Regions from separate parts of the Homo sapiens genome. Here region 1 is linked to region 2. The links come from fine-mapping of genetic effects on plasma protein levels. A gene starts in region 2. The other region holds a variant in brackets. All regions are shown on one strand. Distances are from middle to middle. Region 1 overlaps GFPT2 (glutamine-fructose-6-phosphate transaminase 2). Region 2 holds the start of MAPK9 (mitogen-activated protein kinase 9).

What was found. PIP is the posterior inclusion probability: the model's chance that the variant is causal. The UK Biobank Pharma Proteomics Project read protein levels with antibody pairs (Olink). The fine-mapping took linkage between variants from a reference panel, not from the people measured, so its PIPs are less certain.
Region 1: its variant is fine-mapped to the plasma level of the MAPK9 protein (UK Biobank, PIP 0.90).

What each region holds. Positions count from the first base shown.
Region 1 is chr5:180,302,742-180,312,818 of GRCh38, forward strand. GFPT2 (glutamine-fructose-6-phosphate transaminase 2) reads right to left here. Exons shown (of 19, transcript NM_005110.4): 15 at 9,689-9,803; 16 at 4,435-4,562; 17 at 2,031-2,198. Among named protein-coding and RNA genes, the nearest start is that of MAPK9, 16 kb to the left of the region's middle. RefSeq lists enhancers at 3,170-3,684, 3,685-4,198. The variant T/C (reference allele first, on the strand shown) is at 4,571.
Region 2 is chr5:180,288,502-180,298,326 of GRCh38, forward strand. MAPK9 (mitogen-activated protein kinase 9) reads right to left here and starts at 3,582. Exons shown (of 12, transcript NM_002752.5): 1 at 3,347-3,582. LOC124901151 (a long non-coding RNA gene) reads left to right here and starts at 3,731. Exons shown (of 2, transcript XR_007059085.1): 1 at 3,731-3,799; 2 at 6,470-6,752. RefSeq lists silencers at 3,098-3,287, 3,418-3,787, 3,798-4,137 and an enhancer at 4,060-4,702.

The DNA.
Region 1 (10,077 bases), 14 kb after region 2:
CTTGGAAAGGATAAAGTGTCTGATGCTTTTTGGGGGTTTCTTCCCCTTCCCTGGTAAGGAGATTGCCATCCTGCTGCATCATTTGGCACCCATTTGTGCCTTGCCGAGAGCGGGGCAGACTCACTCCTAACTCTAGCGGGGCTCATAGTCTAGTGGTAGAAAACAAAAACCTAGACAAGCAAACCAAGAAATAAAGATGAATTCCAGGCCGGGCGTGGTGGCTCACGCCTGTAATCCCAACACTTTGGGAGGCTGAGGCGGGTGGATCACGAGGTCAGGAGATCGAGACCATCCTGGCTAACATGGTGAAACCCTGTCTCTACTAAAAAATACAAAAAATTAGCCGGGTGTGGTGGCGGGGGCCTGTAGTCCCAGCTACTGGGGAGGCTGAGGCAGGAGAATGGCGTGAACCTGGGAGGCGGAGCTTGCAGTGAGCCGAGATGGCGCCACTGCACTCCAGCCTGGGCGACAGAGCCAGACTCCGTCACAAAAAAAAAAAAAAAATGAATTCCAAAGAAATGCCACCAAGGCTAGAAAACAGGATAATGTCATTGGGAGACTGGTGAGGTCTCCAAAGCTCTCTCAAAAACAGGAGACATCTGGACTGAACCCTAAATGATGAGGGGACAACCCTCGGCGGAGCATTCTGTGGGAAGGGCATTCCAGACAGCAGGAGCGGCCAGCGCAAAGGCCCGGAGGCGGGCGCGGGCGCAATGAGAGTGGGACGCAGAAGGAAAGCTGGAGTGCCTGGAACTCACTGAAACAGGAGGAAAGGGCCAGATAACGCAGGACTGTGGGTCTCTGTGGCTTGACAGGCAGGTATGGGAGGGTTTTAAGTGGGGAAATGATGCCATTGTGTTTTATACCCTCACTCTGACCTCTGTGCTGAGCCAGGTGGCAACATCTGGATGGGGCACCTCATTGGATTTCACCTCCCCGAAACTTCATGAACTCTGCCCTCCTACCTCAGGGCAGCTGCTGTGTACAAAGCATTTGGTTGGTCTTTGTGGCCGGTTCCAGGAAGGGAGCTCCTGGCTTCTGGACTTTCCCATGTGACAAAAGCATCTTTGTTATTTATGGGAGGTCCCTTGGACTATACCTAACTTTATGCTAAGGTGACGACTCGTGGTGGGCCTGTAGATAGTTCCAGGATGGCGTCTGGCCCTGCTAGAAAGGCCAGCCACATGATTAGAAGGTTGGGGCTTTGAGACATGAGCCTGTCAGTCTGACCTCCCAACCTCCAAGGACAAAAGTGGGGCTGGCGACTGAGTTTGATCACATGGCCAATGGTTCACTCCATCCTGCCTACTTAATAAAACCACAATACAAACTCTGGACACTGGAGCTAGCAGCTCAGGGGAGCTCCCGGGCGACACACAGTGACGTGCTGGGAGGGTGACACATCCTGAGGACACAAGCTTCACATCTGGGGCCCTCAAACTAGGGGTCTCTTCTTTTGGGTTGGCTGTGATTTATATCTTTTATAATAAAACTGTAATCATATAGTCATCTCCTGAGTTCTATGGGTCGTTCTAGAAAATTACTGAACTTCAGGGGAGAGTGGGAATCCTTGGATTCATAGTCAGTTGCTCAGATGTGTGGGTGGACCCCTGGCTTGCAACAGGTGCCTGAATCGAGGGCAGTCTTATGGAAAGCTGTGCCCCTGCCCTATGAGACCTGACCTAACTCCAGGTAGTTCCCATCGGAGCTGCTTGGCCGCAGAACCTGGGGAAACCCTGCCCCAGGGATGTCCACCAGGAGTACCTCCCCTGAGCTCCAGGCTAGGATCTGGTGCTGCTCACAGCAGTGTGGGTCCCTGGGCCCCACCAAAGAGCTGTGTGGGACAGCTGCGGGCTGACCAGCTCCTTTCCAAGTGTGTGCACTCCCCACAGGCGGCCCGGGGGAGGGTGTGTGGTCACAGCCACTCACTGGCCAGACCATCCATCACTGGTACTGGCAGACAGTGGTGAGGTGGGCATGCATGGGGAAAAGCAGGAGAGAGCTGGCCCAGTCCAGTGGAGAGCCCTCACCTGGCGGGCCGTGACTTGCTGCAGGGCGTTCTGGCATTTGGCGAAGCAAGGATCCTTCATAATGACCATGATGACGGGCATCTGCTTGTCAATCAGTGCCAGGGGCCCGTGCTTCAGCTCCCCAGCCAGGATGCCTTCTGAGTGCATGTAGGTTATCTCTTTAATTTTCTGGAAACAGGAGGTGAGATCAGAGTCACACTGGGCAGATGGGGCTGGAGCAGATCAGCCAGAGGGGAAGAAGGGGAACCAGGGGAAGGATGACTCTGGAAGGCAGAGAGCCAAGGGTTGCAAGGCAGACAGATGCCTGGAGTGCTTGACAGCACTGAGGACACCCAGCAAGGGCCTGGGGAGAGGCCTGGCTACCATCCAGAGCATGCACCAGCCCGGGACACAACCTCTGTGTCCCCACACCAGCCCCGGGCACTGCTGTTGTCTCTCTCCAGTCCCACGCACAGCCACCCCTTAGGACAAACAAGTCGGAGTCAGCCTAGCTCACCCCCTGCTCCTCCCTAGCCAGCCACGTGTATAACGACAGCATCGTATTCAGCTTAGCTACACCTTCAGTTAATTATCTGATTAAGCATTTGCCCATTAATAACTTCTAAAGAGTGGTTCCAAGCAAAATCACACAAACTGGGGTGTTATTTGAATTAATTTTTTTCCTGTGTTCAGGTAGATCCATCTCTATTCAGTTACCACAAATCCACGTCATTGAAATGGTGAGACAGTCAAATAAATCATCTCTCGACTCCCCGCTAGCACTGCTGATTTAGGTCAGGGCCACACTGTAAGGAGTGCGGCTCCAGTCTGGAGGCGCAGACAGCTGCAGTGCCGGCCTCCCAGTGACCAGAGGACCATGGGCTCGTGCCAGCAGCCACCTAAACGCTTCTTCCTTCAGCAGACTCATGCGGAGGCATAGCTGCAATGTGCATCTCCCGCCAGCACGTTCAGCCACCGCAGCTCAGCCCCCACCCATGACGCAGAGTCATCTGGGGACTGACAGTGCACCCCAGGCCTTGCCTCTACTGCACTCCAAGAAGCAGCACCTGCCTGTTCTTTAACAGGAGTCAGAATCTCCAGGGGGCAGGTGCAGGAGATGGAGCTCAGTGAGGACAGCCCTGCACTCCCCACCAAGACCAAGGAAATCAACTCTGAATGTTTCCGGTAACCACTTGTAACTGGCATTGTCTTTCTTTTTTTTTTCTTTCTTTCTTTTTTTTTTTTTTCGTTGAGATGGGAGTCTCGTTCTGTCTCCCAGGCTGGAGTGCAGTGGCATGATCTTGGCTCACTGCAACCTCCTCCTCTTGGATTCAAGCGATTCTCCTGCCTCAGCCTCCCATGTAGCTGGGATTACAGGCGTGCACCACCACGCCCAGCTAGTTTTTGAATTTTTGGTAGAGATGGGCTTTTACCATGTTGTCCAGGCTGGTCTCGAACTCCTGACCTCAAATGATCTGACTGCCTTGGCCTCCCAAAGTGCTGGGATTACAGGCGTGGACCACTGTGCCAGCCTAGCATTGTCTTTCAAATGGGGGTGGTGGGGAGGAGATGGGAGAGGATGGCAGCCCAGCTGGGCCACGGTTAATGCCCTCGTCTTGGTGGCCAGTGCAGCCTCAGCTGGAGCACTGTCCCCGTCACCTGGGCTGAGCATCTGCTCCGTGCATGGCATGCTGACAGCGAGGAAAGGGCAAGTCCGAGATGCAGGACCCTGCACGGCTCTCTGCCCACCCTCTGGGCAGCCCTGTGGCCCTGGCACCCTGTCCCTGCCCCATCAGCTTTCTCTTTCCTGGCGTGGATCTTTAATGCTGCAGGGGGCAAATGGCCTGTCACCAATTTTTGAAAAAGCAAGGCCTTCGAAGTTAATTCCTGCAGGATCTCAAACTCCCCTTGGAAGTTTGAGGGGTAACAAGGAAACTCTGCGGAGAACCCACCCCTCAATTTTGGTGGAAAAAAGCGAAGGCCCCATGGACTCAGGTCTGATTCGGGTCCCCTACGTCATCTTGAGTGAGATACTTAAGCTTTCAGAGGCTTTGTTTCCTCCTGAATGAGGGTGAATAGCAACCGCCAACCTCTCAGAAGCAGCTCATGAGGTCTGAGTGAGCTGTTCCAAGTGGACCCTGGCAGTGCCTGGACAGCCGGAGGGGCACACCCCAGGCGCCCTGTCCCTTTCTCCTCAGTAGATTGGGAGATCCCTGGGGGCAGGCACCTGCCTCACCCATCTCTGTGTGCCCAGGGCTAGAAACCTGGTGGAGAGCTGGTGCTCAGCGCAGGCTCACAGGACTGGCCAAGGGGTCCTTAGGCCCGGCCCTCCCCAAGCCCAACGCCCTGCCCTCCTTCCCGCTGGCTCCTCAGGGTCTCCTGTGCCTGTCCTCCGTGGGGGTGGGGGCTGGGGGTGGGGGCTCACCAGGGCTCCTTCCAGGCAGGTGGCATAGTTGTAGCCCCGCCCCATCACCAGCAGCGATCTCTGCGTGTAGAGCTCCAGGGCCAAGTCGTGGATCTTCTCCTCCAGAGACAGCACTTCCTTGATCAGCTCTGGGCCA[T/C]GCACGGAGCAGAGGGAGAAAACCAGTCAGGCCGACTTTAAAGCAATATTCATGAAGACAAATGCTGGGGTTTAAGAGGAGCTTTTGAAACCGCATCACTTAGCACACTTTGCTTCCTCGCATTCGTTTCAAACGTAGATTACAGGAAATAACTTGGGCTCCTGGCCAGGATTCTGTTAGGATGGGGATTCGTGTTGTGTGAACACTTTCTTGAGCACCAACAAGGTAGGAAGTACCATTTCTCACTCCGTTTTGCAGGTAAGACAACTGAGGCTCAGAGAGGCAAAAATCACCCACTGGAGACAGAGCTGACACCACCAGTTAACACCCCTCTTTCCTGCTGTGTCTCAAGACAAGGCCCCTGTAAGTGGGACCACCGGTTCTCAAACCCTTTGGTCTCAGGACTCCTTTACACTCTTGAAAATTATTGCAAGTCCCTCAAATTATTGCACATCCCCAAGAGCCTTTGTTTTTGAGTTAAATCTGTCAACATTTACCAGATTAGAAAATAACACTGAGGACCAGGCGTGGTGGCTCACGCCTGTAATCGCCGCACTTTGGGAGGCCGAGGCGGGTGGATCATGAGGTCAGGAGATCGAGACCATCCTGGCTAACATGGTAAAACCCCGTCTCTACTAAAAATACAAAAAATTAGCCGGGCGTGGTTGGGTGCGGTGGCTCACGCCTGTAATCCCAGCACTTTGGAAGGCTGGGGCAGGCGGATCACGAGGTCAGGAGATCGAGACCATCCTGGCTAACATGGTGAGACCTGGTATCTACTAAAAATACAAAAAATTAGCCGGGCATGGTGGCGGGCGCCTGTAGTCCCAGCTACTCGGGAGGCTGAGGCAGGAGAGTGGCGTGAACCTGGGAGGCGGAGCTTGCAGTGAGCTGAGATGGCACCACGGCACTCCAGCCTGGGCAACAGAGCGAGACTCCATCTCGAAAAAAAAAAAAGAAGAAAAAGAAAGAAAGAAACTAACAATGAGAAATTTAAAAATATTCACTTTAAAATAACAACACTAAATCTATTACATTACTTCATTTCCAACAAGAATTAGTGAGAAGAATGGCACTGCTTTTTGTTCTTGCAAATCTTTTTAGTGTCTGCCTTTTTAATAAAAGACTGTTGACTCTAATATCTGCTTTCACATTCAATCTGTGGTGATAAGCTCTTTTGGTTGAAGTATAAAAATAAAATTCAGCCTACAAATACAGATTTGTAGTTGGAAAAGCGAGGAGTATTTAAATTATTTTACAAATAATTGTGAATATTGTTCTTTGACACCACAGTACATCAAACTTGAGAAACAGTAGGTTCTTGAAAGGGTAGGTGCCAATATAGAATCTGAAATCCTATCAATAAACTTTTTCTACTTTGTTAGGTTAAAATTTATTTTTCTGTCTTGTGCTTTTAAATGGATCATTTACAAGTGCATAACTCTGTGACATCGTGAACTGGCCACAAAGGTATGTAAATCTTCTTAAAATGGACACTTTTATTATAAAATGTTCTTTAAAAATCACCTTGTTGAAGTCACCTTGATCTCATCAGAGAAGACTTTTTTTTTTTTTTGAGACAGAGTCTCACTCTGTCACCCAACCTGGGGTGCAGTGGCACGATCTCGGCTCACTGTAACCTCGGCCACCCGGGTTCAAGTGATTCTCCTGCCTCAGCCTCCTGAGTAGCTGGGATTACAGGTGCCTGCCACTGCACCCAGCTAAATTTTTTAAATATTTTTAGTAGAGATGGGGTTTCACCATCTTGGATAGGCTGGTCTTGAACTCCTGACCTCATGATCCACCCACCTCGGCCTCCCAAAGTGCTGGGATTACAGGCATCAGCCACCGTGCCCGGCCCTAGAGAAGTCTTTAAATGTTAGGAACTGGTCAAGCTCATGGTAACAGAGGTGTTTTCTAACACTCAAAAGTTTTGCCTGGGAGCTTAAAGTTTATCATTGGCAACAAATACCATGGGTTGCTTCTACTGATGCGTCAGCTGATTTTTCATTTTGAGAAAATGTCTAACAAACACCAAAATCAGCTTGCTACTCAATGGGATGGCTGCTTCTCTTGAGACAAGCATCACACTTCAGTGTAGAGCAGAAAGGCTTTTTCTCTTTTTCCAGACGGAGTTTTGCTCTTGTTGCCCAGACTGGAGTGCAACGGCGTGATCTCAGCTCATTGCAACCTCTGCTTCCCAGGTTCAAGTGATTCTCCTGACTCAGCCTCCCAAGTAGCTGGGATTAAAGGCGCACACCACCACACCCAGCTATTTTTAGTAGAGATGGGGTTTCACTGCGTTGGTCAGGCTGGTCTCGAACTCCTGACCTCAGGTGATCCGCTCGCCTTGGCCTCCCAAAGTGCTGGGATTACAGGCATGAGCCACCACGCCTGGCCCCAGTAGAAAGGCGCTACGTGTACTCCCCATTTCATCATAAAGGATATTACAAAGAGTTGCAATTTACAGACTAATAATTTTTACCACCTCATCAAGGCCATTCCTTTTTTTTTTTTGAGATGGAGTATCACTCTGTCACCCAGGCTGGAGTGCAGTGGTGCGATCTCGGCTCACTGCAAACTCTGCCTCCCAGGTTCACGCCATTCTTCTGCCTCAGCCCCCCGAGTAGCTGGGACTACAGGTGCCCACCACCACGCCCGGCTAATTTTTTGTATTTTTAGTAGAGACGGGGTTTCACCATGTTAGCCAGGATGGTCTCGATCTCCTGACCTCATGATCTGCCTGCCTCGACCTCCCAAAGTGCTAGGATGACAGGCATGAGCCACCGTGCCCAGCCTTTTCTTTTTGAGATGAAGTCTCGCTCTTGTCGCCCAGGCTGGAGTACAATGGCACAATCTCGGCTCACTGCAATCTCCGCCTCCTGGGTTCAAGCAATTCTCCTGCCTCAGCCTCCCAAGTAGCTGGGATTACAGGCACCCACTAGCACGCCCAGCTAATTTTTGTATTTTTAGTAGAGATGGGGTTTCACCATGTTGGCCAGGCTGGTCTCGAACTCCTGACCTCAGGCGATCTGCCCACCTCGGCCTCCCAAAGTACTGAGATTACAGGCGTGAGCCACTGCGCCTCACCATCAAGGCCATTCTTTTTTGTTTTTTGAGATGGAGTCTCACTCTGTTGCCCAGGCTGGAGTGCAGTGGCAGAATCTTGGCTCACTGCAACCTCTGCCTCCTGGGTTCAAGTGATTTTCCTGCCTCAGCCTCCCGAGTAGCTGGGATTACAGGCACCTGCCACCACATCCAGCTGCTTTTTGTGTTTTTAGTAGAGATGGGGTTTCACCATGTTGACCAGGATGGTCTCGAACTCCTGACCGCAGGTGATCCGCCCACTTCAGCCTCCCAAAGTGCTGGGATTACAGGCGTGAGCCACCGCGCCCGGCCATCAAGGCCATTCTTAAGGGAAACTGGGTGTGTGCTGGTGAAGGACACAATGACCAGTAGGCCTTCTAGTGTGCTGGGTGCCGGGCACAGCCACCACTGCCTTTGCAAATGTGGACACAGGCAAAAAAAAAAAAAAAAAAAAAAAAAAAAAAAATTTTTAGTATAAAGAATGTATTACTATGTGAACAATTTTGTTCAAAGGGCTTTGCAGACACCCAGGACCTGTGGACCACATCTGGAGAACCACTGACTTAGACGTCAGAATTGGGTCCTGTTTTGCATGGTTATGACCTGGCTTAAAGGAAGAATGCTTTTCTCAGAAATAAACTTTCAGCAAGCTGTCTCGGCCAGTGTCAGGCCCCGAGGGCCTGGAATTGACCATTCTCTATGATGGCCCTTCCCCAACTGCCTGCTCTGGGGTTTGGCCCTGGCTCCCAGGGAAGCTCCAGCGTCCACTCTGTCTCTGGGAGGGCACTCCCCAGAAGCCCCATGATGTCCTGTCCGCAGTGAGCGTTCCATGCCAGCCTGGGGCGAGGCTCGATTCATCTCCGCCTCTCAGGCCTGCACAGAAGTCTCTCTCCTACTCTGGCATGTGAGTGACTGAAGGAGGTGAGCTGCTGCTTATCTTGGCAGGCCAGGGATAGCACATGGGACAGGGCACGGCACTGGTTCTTAATATATGTGGTGGATGAATGAAGAAAGGGGAGGCCACGGTCCCCAAGGAGGTCATGATTTAGTGCAACAGATATTGTATCTCACCAGCTACGACAGCTGCGACTGCTGCTGCCCAGCAAACGGGGAAAGTGTGGTGGGGCTGCCAAGGAGCGCCTGGCATAGGAAGGACCTGGGGCCATTTGCTCTTTCTCGAGTACTTACTGAGCACCTACTGTATGCCTGCCCTGTGCTGGACACCAGCTGTCCAGTGGCAGCTCTGGCAGACAGAGCTGTGTGTTCACGGAGCCGACATGTTAGTTGGGGGAGACAGGCCAGTCAACAGGTGAACAGGGAATTTCAGGTCATGAGGTGTGTTATGAAAAAAATAAACAGGCTAATGTTTCACAGAGTGCTGGCGTCGGGGCCTCTGTGAGCATGGCCAGGGAGGGTCTCAGGAGGTGACATTTGAGCTGAGGTTTGGGAGATGAGAAGCTGTCGGCTGTATGCAGAGCAGGAAGAAGATGGTTCAGCAGAGTAAAGAGCCAGTGCGAAGGCCCTGCGGTGAGAAAGCACTGAGCACTGCTGAGGACCAGGGAGGCAGGGAGGCTGAGGACCAGGGAGGCAGGGAGGTGGGGAGGCTGAGGGGCAGGGAGGCAGGGAGGCGGGGAGGTGGGGAGGCTGAGGGGCAGGGAGGCAGGGAGGCGGGGAGGCTGAGGACCAGGGAGGCAGGGAGGCTGAGGACCAGGGAGGCAGGGAGGCGGGGAGGCTGAGGACCAGGGAGGCAGGGAGGCTGAGGACCAGGGAGGCAGGGAGGCTGAGGACCAGGGAGGCGGGGAGGCAGGGAGGCAGGGAGGCAGGGAGGCAGCGCGGCAGCGCAGGGGGAGGTGGGGGCCGAGCAGGATGAGGTCAGAGGCAGCAAGGCCTCCAGGAGGGAGTTGGGGAAGCTAGGAAGTTTTAGGAGGAAGAAGAAATGAACAACATCCTGTACAGGTGAGAGTCAACAGAGAATGGCCAGCAACAGTCCACTAGATCTGAAAACATGGAAAGCTGAATTCTAGAACATACCAGGTAAAGATCTCAAGCCACGGATGATCTCTTGCCTCCTGTTTTGTAGTGAAATTCGGTCTTCAGACATCATCAAACCAAACATCACCAGAGAGATGAACTGACTGGTATAAGCCTGTGCACAAAGAAGGAGGTGGCAGGGACCTTATTTTCACTTTTTAAATCAACTTTTATTTTTGAGACAGGGTCTACTCTGTTGCTCACGCCTGAGTGCAGTGGCGAGATCACGGCTCACTGCAGCCTCAACCTCCTCAAGTGATTCTCCCACCTCAGCCTCCCGAGTAACTGGGACTACAGGTGCCACCACCCTGCCCAGTTAATTTTTAGGTTTTATTTATCTATTTATTTATTTCTATTTTGTTTTTGAGACAAAGTCTTGCTGTGTCACC
Region 2 (9,825 bases):
TACCTTTAGAGACCTACCGAAGTGTGAAGTATAACTACTGTACACCTCCTGAGCACCCTGAGGTTGTGCCCGTATGTTTTACAGATGAGTGCAATCGCTTCTGCACATCACCCAGATAAGCAGCAGACCCACTGGGAGTCTGACTCAAAGTCCTGATCTTACCCACTGCTCCGAGCTACCCTACCACATTTATTCTCCCATTTAGCTTTGTCTTTACCAAACATTTACTGGGCACCCACTGTGTAATTAGTATCCCAAAAAATAATGAATGAAATGACATGATATTTAGGATTTGCTTGAAAATAATTATGGGTGGTAAGGGTGCAAGTGGATACCATTAGAGATGAAACAAGATTGGTCAGGAGTTAATAACTGTTAAAGCAGGACACTATTCTGTTTATTTTGTATATGTTTGAAAGTTCCCATAATAAAAGTTAAAATAAAAAGAATGATGTTGAAACTGGTTCATACAATCAAGTACAAAGTATCAGGAATTAATTATTCTGAAGGAAAATTATGTAAAAATGGCACCTTCCTAACCAAGTGTGAGGTGTAACTACTGTATGTATGTAGACCAAAAATAGTTGCCCTATTGGCAAATCAATAGTCTCAAGAAGAAAAAAAATCTGGTCTCTGTTTTATCTTATGCCTCATGAAAACAACTGGTTTACTCGCTATTAACTGGTTTGTCTGGTCCTTTTCTTTATCCAGAAAATTAAGAATATTTTATCTTAGACACATTCAAGTATCCCCTCTGTTGTTTATTTACGGGACCAAATAAACAGATTTTAATCTGTGAACAAATTAAAGTCCTGGCACCCTGAAAATTAAATTGCCAGGAAAATCAAAGCTGTCAAAAGAGAAGTCTATGCAAAAATAGTATTGTTTTTAACTCTGCAGGATCCTTTTGAAGAAAAAAAAAAGTTAAATGGAGGAAAACATTAAATAGATTGGTGGTCATTCTTCCAGAACAAGTTAAAAGCCAAAAGAGAATACTCAGAGCTGAGGGACCCAGGAAAGAATCCTTATCTGGGAAGTGATCTGGGTTCGAACTCCACTCACCAGCTGCTTGCTAAGAAACAGACTACTTAGACTCCTGAGCTTCCGTTTCCACAGGGCTCCAGTTACAATCAAATGAGTATCTGGGCTGGCACCTGGGCAAACAGGGCCTGGCTCCCCTGGCCTTAGGCTACCTTTCCTGCTCTCCTCACAGCTCCTCCCTCCCACACAGCCAGTCCTGGAGGATGACGATCCTGCAACCAAGCTGAATGAATCTGTATTTGGCTTGGCTCACAGCATTAAAAAAAAATTTAATTAGCTATTGCCAACATTTAAAAATCAGAACAAATGTGGAGTGCTGCCTTCCTTTTTAGAGACAGGGTCTTGCTCTGTCACCCAGGCTGGAGCACAGTGGTGTGATCATAGCTCACTGCAGGCTCCAAATCCTGGGCTCATGGGATCCTTCCACCTCAGCCTCCCAAGCAGCTAGGACTACAGGTGGATGCCACCACACCTAGCTAATTTCTTAAAATTTTTTGTAGAGACAGATCTCGCTACGTTGCCCAGGCTGGTCTTGAACTCCTGGCCTGAAGTGATCCTCCCACATCAGCCTCCCAAAGTGTCTTGAAATTACTGGCGTGAGCCATGGCACCCAGCCAAATTCCACCTTCTTCTAGAAAACTGCTGGGTAAGGTTCCTGTTCTTTAGGGTCCCCACGACTCTGTGTCCTTACACCTGGCCCTCCAGACTGATTCTCAACTCCACAGTGGCCTACGGTCCTTCCTTGGCCCTGCTCCTTCACACCTCTGTGCCTCTCCCTGCCTAGCAAATTTCTTATCACCCTCAAGGCCCCCCAGCACCACCTGTCACCTCCTCCACATTTCCATGGCATAGCCCCTCCCCTATAGCAAGGGTTGTACAGTCCTGGAACTAAGTGTCTGCATGCCTGCCTTCTCTACTGGGCTCCTGGGCTCTCTCGGGAAAGGGACCCCGTTGCTATCTGCCTTGTGTCCGTAGGGTCTAGCAGAAAGCATGACCTAGATAATGCAGAATTCAGTAAATGTCTCTTGTATGTGTGGAAGAAAGCTACAGCTAAACTATTATAAAAATGTGAGATTTTATATCACAGCTTGTTCCAACAGTTAGCAATTAAAGGGGTCAAGGACACCAAAATGTTTCACAAAATAGAACAAGCTTCCATCTGCTTACAAGTTTCACACGCTAATCAGAAGTCACTAAATGAACAGATAAAGCAGAGACAACAGGCAGGCTGGGCCATTTCTTTGATCATTCATTCATTCATTGAGCTGATACTACTGAATACTTCCTGTGTGCTTTCTAAGCACTGGGGATAAAGCAGTGGACAAATCAGACAGCTACCTGTTTTCACAAAGTTACATCCTAGTCGGGGAGACAGAAAATAAGCAGGCAAATAAATAGAATAGTTTCAAACCAGATGAGAGCTAGGAAGGAAATTTTTTAAATAATGAAATAGCATGACTAAGGGAAGAAAGAGGGTGGTCGAGGAGGGCCTCACCCAAAACGAGACATCTGACCAGAGGAAGGAGCAGAAAGAGCTACTTGTGCCAAGATCACGGAGACAACTCCAAAGACGGGGAAACAGCAAATGCAAAGGTCCTGGGGCAAATGCGGGCTGGCATGTTCAAGGCGGGCGAGATGAGTGGGACGGGGCAGCAGTCTTCTGGGGGAGGGGCGCGGTGGTAAGGGATTCGGGCTGGGTCCCCTCTGGCACTGCTGGACACCGAGTGTGCAATGACAAGGCAAGAGAGGAGTGCGCGGGGAGGCGGGAGGCTGGGCGGGTGGGGAGGGGGTTCCTACACCACTCACACCAGCACGGGCCAGCACCCTGCCCAGTCTTCCACAGATGCACACCGGGGTCCTGCCCAGGCGTCTGCATACATTCACACAGCCTGACAACAACCCTGTCCAGAAGAGACATTTCCCCACCTTCCCGAAGGCAAAACCGCGGCAGAGCGAGGGTCAGTGCCTTGGCCAAGGTCGCGGGGACGCGACCCCGGGCCCCTGGGCACCCGGCGCAGGAGTGCAGCTGTCTGCCCCACCTCCGGGAGGGATGGCGCCCGCAGACCCCACGGGCAGGTCGGCCGGGCCAGGCCGGTGAGCAGGCCCGCAGCCCGGGGCTGCTGACAGCCGGGCGGAAGGGGGCGCCTGCGGCATCCCCCAGCACAGGGGCGACGGCTGCGGCTGCCAGGGCCCCGCAGCCCCCGGCCCGCCCCGAAGCCCCCGGCCGCGCGGTTCCCTCACCGCCCCTCCCCGCGGGCCCGGCCCGAGCAGCCGCCGCCAGGCCTAGCCCGCCCGCCGGGCTCACCTCGCCTCCCCGCCGCCGCGCCACGGGGAGAGGGCGGGCGGGCGGACTGGCGGCGCTGCGTGCTAGTCACTCCTGGCTCCGCGGCCCCGGCTCCGCCGCCGGCCCGCCCCGCTCCGCTCCGCCCCGCCGCCGCCGCCGCCGCCGCCGCCGCAGTGGGTGTGAGGGGCGCCGGGGCGCTGCGACCCTTCCGGTCCCGCTCCCTTCTCCGCCGCTGCCGCCGCCGCGGCGCCCGGTCTGACAGACCCTCGCGCCGACCAATCAGCGCGCGGAGAGCGGAGCAGGCGCGGCCAATGGCGCCTGGGGGGCGGGCCGATGGAGGGTGGCGCGGGCGGGGTCGGGGGCCGGGTCGGGCGCCCGAGGTCCTGGGCCGGGGTTCCGCGGGTTCTTCGCCCCCGGGCCTTTCAGTGGCGCGGGCCGAGTGGCCATGGCGCTCGGGTGCGCGCAGTGCACGCGGTGAGCTGGAGACGCAGGCATTGCGCGGCCCACCGGCTGAGCCCGCTCTCCCTGCGAGGGGGGCGCAGCTCGGTGGAGAGGGTGGCCCGGAGGACCGGGAACCGGGCTGGAGGCGCGCGGGGCTCACACCGCGGGGTCCGCGGGGAGCCGGGCCTCGGGCTGCAGGTGCAGGCTTGTGGCGGTGAGGCGACTGGAGCGGCACGGGAGCCCGCCCGTTTCGGGGAGAGCCCGGGGCGATCGCGGGGGGAGGCCGGCCTGGCGTCCGGGAGCCCGGCGTGCTAGGGCCCGGTAGGCGGGGCGGGCCTCGCACTCGGTTGCTCGCTGCGGCGCCGGAGGAACGGGTCTATGGGGGTGTGGGTGAGGCCAGAAGCCGGGTCGAAGAGGGGGAGGGGGTGCGAAGAGATGGCGGTGTGTAGACAGGTGACCCGGTGGGTCGGTGACGCAGGAGGAGACTGCGCTTGGTGGCGGGATCACTTAGTTGACAACATCTAAAAATTAGGAGGTGCGGCAGGGCGCGGTGGCTCACGCCTGTAATCCTAGAACTTTGGGAGGTCGTGGCGGGTGGACTACCTGAGGTGAGGAGTTCGAGACCAGCCTGGCTAACCTGGTGAAACCCCGTCTCTATTAAAAATACGAAGCAATGAGCTGGGCGTGGTGGCGGGCGCCTGTAATCCCAGCTACTCGGGAGGCTGAGGCAGGAGAATCACTTAAACCTGGGAGGCGGAGGTTGCAGTGAGCCGGGATTGCGCCATTGCACTCCAGCCTGGGTGACAGAGTGAGACTCTCTCAAAAAAAAAAAAAAAAAAAAAAAAAAAAAAAAAAAAAAAAAGGGAGGTGCTCAGTCAAGCCTCTGAGAGGAGTGGGGGGCGGGGCGAGGAGTCTCTTGCTCAGAGCCCCCTAGGGACTGGGACCCGTTGACTCTGAGCTGCTTTTGAGGCTGGATCAGGTACCAGCGGCCTGGGGGTCGTACAGGATGGGAGAGGCCGGGGCTTGGGATGTTGCCAGATCTACGTTGAAAAGTGAAGCAGGAAGAGAGGCACTGAGGCTGGGCACATGGGGAAAACCGTGGAGAGCCGGCCTTTGGGGACTAGAAGAGTGGGAACAATGGTTGACAAATGGTGAGTGTGGTGTAGAACAGCAGTAACACAATACCAGGATCCACAGAGTGGCCAGGGCCAGAGTGGGGAGAAGGAACAGGACTCTGCAGATGGGGAGGGTAAGGGGCTGGGTGGCGTGAAGGGTGGTTGCAGAATTTGGGGAGGGCAGCTAGCCTGTGACCCAGGTTCCAAGGGCACTGAGGTCTGGGCCAGGCCGCTTGGAGGCACCAGAGCCTCAGAGGAGGGGTGGGGTAGAGGAACGGATCCAGCATGGTGTCCCCCTTGGCCACCAGAGGGAGTTTTCTAAATTTGAGCATGGCTCATCGCTGCTTGAAATTCTACGTCACAGTGTGGCCTGCATTGAGGAGGGCCCACACCTGTCGCTACCTCAGACTCACCTGCCACCTGCCTCAAGTGCATGAGAGAGAACAGGAAACCAGAAATTGTCAGGATCGAGGATTATGGGAAAAGAGTAAAAGCCTAGCTGTCAGATCTGAGGTTCCACCAAGGAGCACTGATGGGTGCTTCTCATTAGGAAGGCGGTGCGGTGGCTCACACCTGTAATCCCAGTACTTTGGGACGCCGAGGTGAGTGGATCACCTGAGGCCAGGAGTTCGAGACCAGCCTGGCCAACATGGTGAAACGTCATCTCTATTAGAAATACAAACATTAGCTGGGCGTGGTGATGGGTGCTTGTAATTCCAGCTATTCAGGAAACCAAGGCAGGAGAATAACTTGAATCCACGAGGCAGAGGTTGCAGTGAGCCGAGATTGCTCCACTGCACTCCAGCCTGGGCAACAGAGCAAAAACTGCATCTCAAAAAAATAAAAACAAAAAAACAGAGGGGACACCAGTTCCCAGCACTCCAGGCCTAACTTCATAGCACTCACATCATGTCAAGTGAGTAACCAAAAATCAGTGTACATATGTACACAGCTATACATATCTCACACTAAGTTTTCTGTAAGAGTTCTTTTTATTGCAGAGACACTGCTTTTTTTCTGGTTTATGAAATACAGTGAACATTTATGGACACAAAGCTGAGGTGACAGGGTGGGGAGGGGGGCCTTGGAACAGCACCAAGAATCCTGGTTGAACCCTCCAAGTGAAAAGATCCTGCCACGACATACGTGAACCAGGTGTGACACGTGAGCACGTCTCACCTGATCCGGCCTATGGTGGGGAGAAGCAATTGAGGAAGGCCTTCTGGGCAGGAGGAAGTTGTTGCTGAGGCTGCCGAGCAGGATGTGTTGGGCCTGTGACTTAGGCAGAAAGGGCGCTCAGGCCCACATGCTCAGATGTGAGGACCTGCTTGCTGTGTTCAGGGAGCCACAAGTCACCTGGTCTTAGGGAAAGGTGAGGGGACTGGAGAGTTCTGAGGACCTTGAGGTAGATTGGCACTGCCAGGCATGTAGGCTGGCTTTAGCTCACTGATACGCCTTGTTCAGCCCAGAGAGGTTTTCTTTTTTTAATTGATTAGTTGATTTAAGAAACATTTAGATTTGGGATGAGCTGTTTTGGATGTTTATCCTCAATGAAACTCATGTTCAAACTTAATCTCCAATGTGGCAGTACTGAGAGGTGGGGCCTCTAAGCGTGGTTGGGATTAACCTGTCGATGGATTCATGGATTAAAGGGTTATCACCGGAGTGGGACTGGTGACTTCATTAGAAGAGGAAGGAAGACCTGAGCTGGCCTGTGAATATGCTCCGCCCCCTGGCCATGTGACACCTGCGCCACCCTCAGGACTCTGCAGAGTCCCCAGCAGCAAGAAGGCCCTCACCAGGTGCAGCCCCTCAACCTTGGACTTCTCAGCCCCCAGGGCTGTAACAAATAAATTCTTTTTTAAAGTAAATTACCCAGTTTCAGGTATTCTGTTATAAGCAACAGAATAAGAAACAGACTAAGACAAGAGCACAGCGGGGTGGAGGAGCTAGGGGTGCCTGGGGCATTGGGGACCTGTCCGGAGGCCAGCTGTGTATGCAGCCACAGTGCCAACGGGTTTCTGTGATCCTGATATCCCCCACCCTTGACTGGCCTGGATTCCAATCCGACTCTTGTCAGCTGTGCTCCTCTGGGCAAGGGATTCACTTCTGTCTGCCTTGGTTCTGTAGGAAGTGGCATGGAGAAGGACAGAAGCAGGAAGAGCTGGGTGCGGCCCATGCAGCAGGGATGGTGTAGGTCCTTATGCTGACTGCCTCTGTCCCCTCAACACTTTGCCTGCCCTCCCCCCATTGCACTAACCCACATCTTCCCTTCTCCCCTACAAGGACCCAGAGATGTGCTAGAGGGTGTAAGTCGGGGCTGTCCCAGCTGTGTGTTGTAGAAAACTAAACTGCACTTAAACCAATGGGGACGTTTACTGGGAGGTGCCTGTAACATCATACCCAGGGGAGGTAGGGGCAGAGCTGGTCTGGAAACTCTAGGGCCATGGAGGCCACTGCAGGCCCAAATGGAGTTTGAAAACCCACAACAATGGACTCTGATGGTCCCCCAGACAGGGCTTCCATTCTGGAACTAGTCAGCCATGCTGGGCAGACAGGCTCATGTGAGGACATGGCAGGGAAGGGCAGAATTGGGAAAGGCAGAAGTCTGGAAGTTTCTTCCATGGTGATGATTAGAATGAGGGCATCTGAGCTGGGGCGCAGCTGAGGGTGTGGCACTGTATGGAAACAGGGTTATTTGGGGGCTGTATAACTGAATGCTGAACCCAGTGGCCCTTAGCCCTCCTCCTCCGGGAATCCCCCAGAGCACCAGCAGCTGGGACTGTCCTCAGGCAGGGAGCCAGCAAGCTGTTCTCCAGAAGTCTGACCAGCCCTGAAGGGAAGACCTGAGGTATGAACATTATGACACCCCCACCCCCACCAGATTTCCCAGCAGTGAATCCTGCATCAACCAGCCCTACCATGCCTTAGACCTTCCAGTCAGCCCCCCTTGAATCTGAACAGACAGCTCCATGTCATATGGCTAAGAAAAGTAAGACAAAAAACTGCATCTTGAAAGAAACAGACTCTGTGGAGAAGGAAAATTCAAAAAATAAAAATAAAACTACTGCTAGCTTCAGAGAGAATGAAAAAATATTGCATCCTTCAAACAAGAACCAGCCATTTAAAAATTATGCAGCACAGGTGTATGCAACATGGCCTTGCTCTGTCAGCTGAGATGGCCTAGAAGCAATGACATCTCAGCAGTGGCTGACACACCCAGAGCCCAGATCTTGTTCTCTAATGTCATTCGCCATAAAAGGAACCAGGGATCCCTGGAGAAATGGTTGATTCTAGGGCTGGGACAGGGGATGGACAAGACGAGCCTGGAGAATATTGTTGTGCAGGTAAGGAAGTACTTACAACACACACACACACACACACACACACACAAGGAAGTACAACACACACGTAAGAAAGTACACACACGGAAGTACTTACCCCCCCCCCCACACACACACGGAAGTACTTACCACACACACACACACACACACACACAAGGAAGTACAACACACACGTAAGGAAGTACACACACGGAAGTACCCCCCCACACACACACACGGAAGTACTTACCACACACACACACACACACACACACACAGATGGGGCTATGTCAAAGAGACACAAGAGCCAACTGAAAGAGCCCCCAGTGGCTGTTGCTGGAACCATTGGAACAACAAACTAACATAGTATTGGGCATGACTCAAAATATAAAATAAATATCTATGGTTCATTCTAATAGAAATAATAAATGGGGAAGAATAGAAAAGTTTGTGGCCGGGCACAGTGGCTCGCACCTGTAATCCCAGCACTTTCGGAGGGCGAGGTGGGCGGATCACGAGGTCAGGAGATCGAGGCCATCCTGGCTAACACGGTGAAACCCCATCTCTACTAAAAATACCAAAAAAAATTAGCCGGGTGTGGTGGCGGGCACCTATAGTCCCAGCTACTCAGGAGGCTGAGGCAGGAGAATGGTGTGAACCCGGGAGGTGGAGCTTGCAGTGAGCCGAGATCACGCCACTGCATTCCAGCCTGGTGACGAAGTGAGACTCTATCTCAAAAAAAAAAAAAAAAAAATATATATATATATATATATAGTCAGAGCAAAAAAAAACCCTCGAAAAATTAAATCATGTTGGCAGAAATGAAAAATCTTAGTAGCAGGTTGGGAGATAAAATTGAAATCTCTCAGTAGGGCAAAAAGACAACAAATGAATGATAAAAAAGATAAGAAATTAGAGGCCAGTCCAGCAGCTTCACCCTGGGAATAATAGACACTCCAGAGACAGAGAAACAGAGAAATCCACAACAAAATAATTCAAGAAAATTTCCTAGTCTGAAAGGCAAAAGTTACCAGATGCAATCAACCCTAAATGAAATGTGCTCTAGGCAACTTGTGGTATTTCAGAACACAGGAAACAAAAAAGAGACCAAAAGGTCACCTACAAAGACATCAGACTTTGGACTCAATAGCAGCACTGGGAACAAGACGATGAAGCACTACCTTTAAAATTCTGCAGGAACACCTTTTTCTGACCTAGAATTGTGTGTTTAGCTAAACCCTCTATCAAGTATAAATAAAAAAATCATTTCCACACCTGCAGATTCTCAAAAAACTTGCCTTCTGTTGTGGCCTGAATATTTGTGTTTCCCCAAATTCATATGTTGCAATCCTAACCCCTGCCACATGTGATGTTATTAGGAGGTGAGGCCTTTGGGAGGTGATGAGTGTGAGGGTGGAGCCCTTATGAATGGGATTAGTACACTTATCAAAGAGGCTCCAGAGAACTCCCTTGTCCCTTCTGCCATGTGAGGACACAGCAAGAAGGCTGCTCTGTACAAACCAGGAAATGGGCCCTCACCAAGACTCCACATCTGCCGGTGCCTTGATCTTGGACTTCCCACTGTTGAGAACTGTGAGAAAGAAATGTGGGATTTTTATAA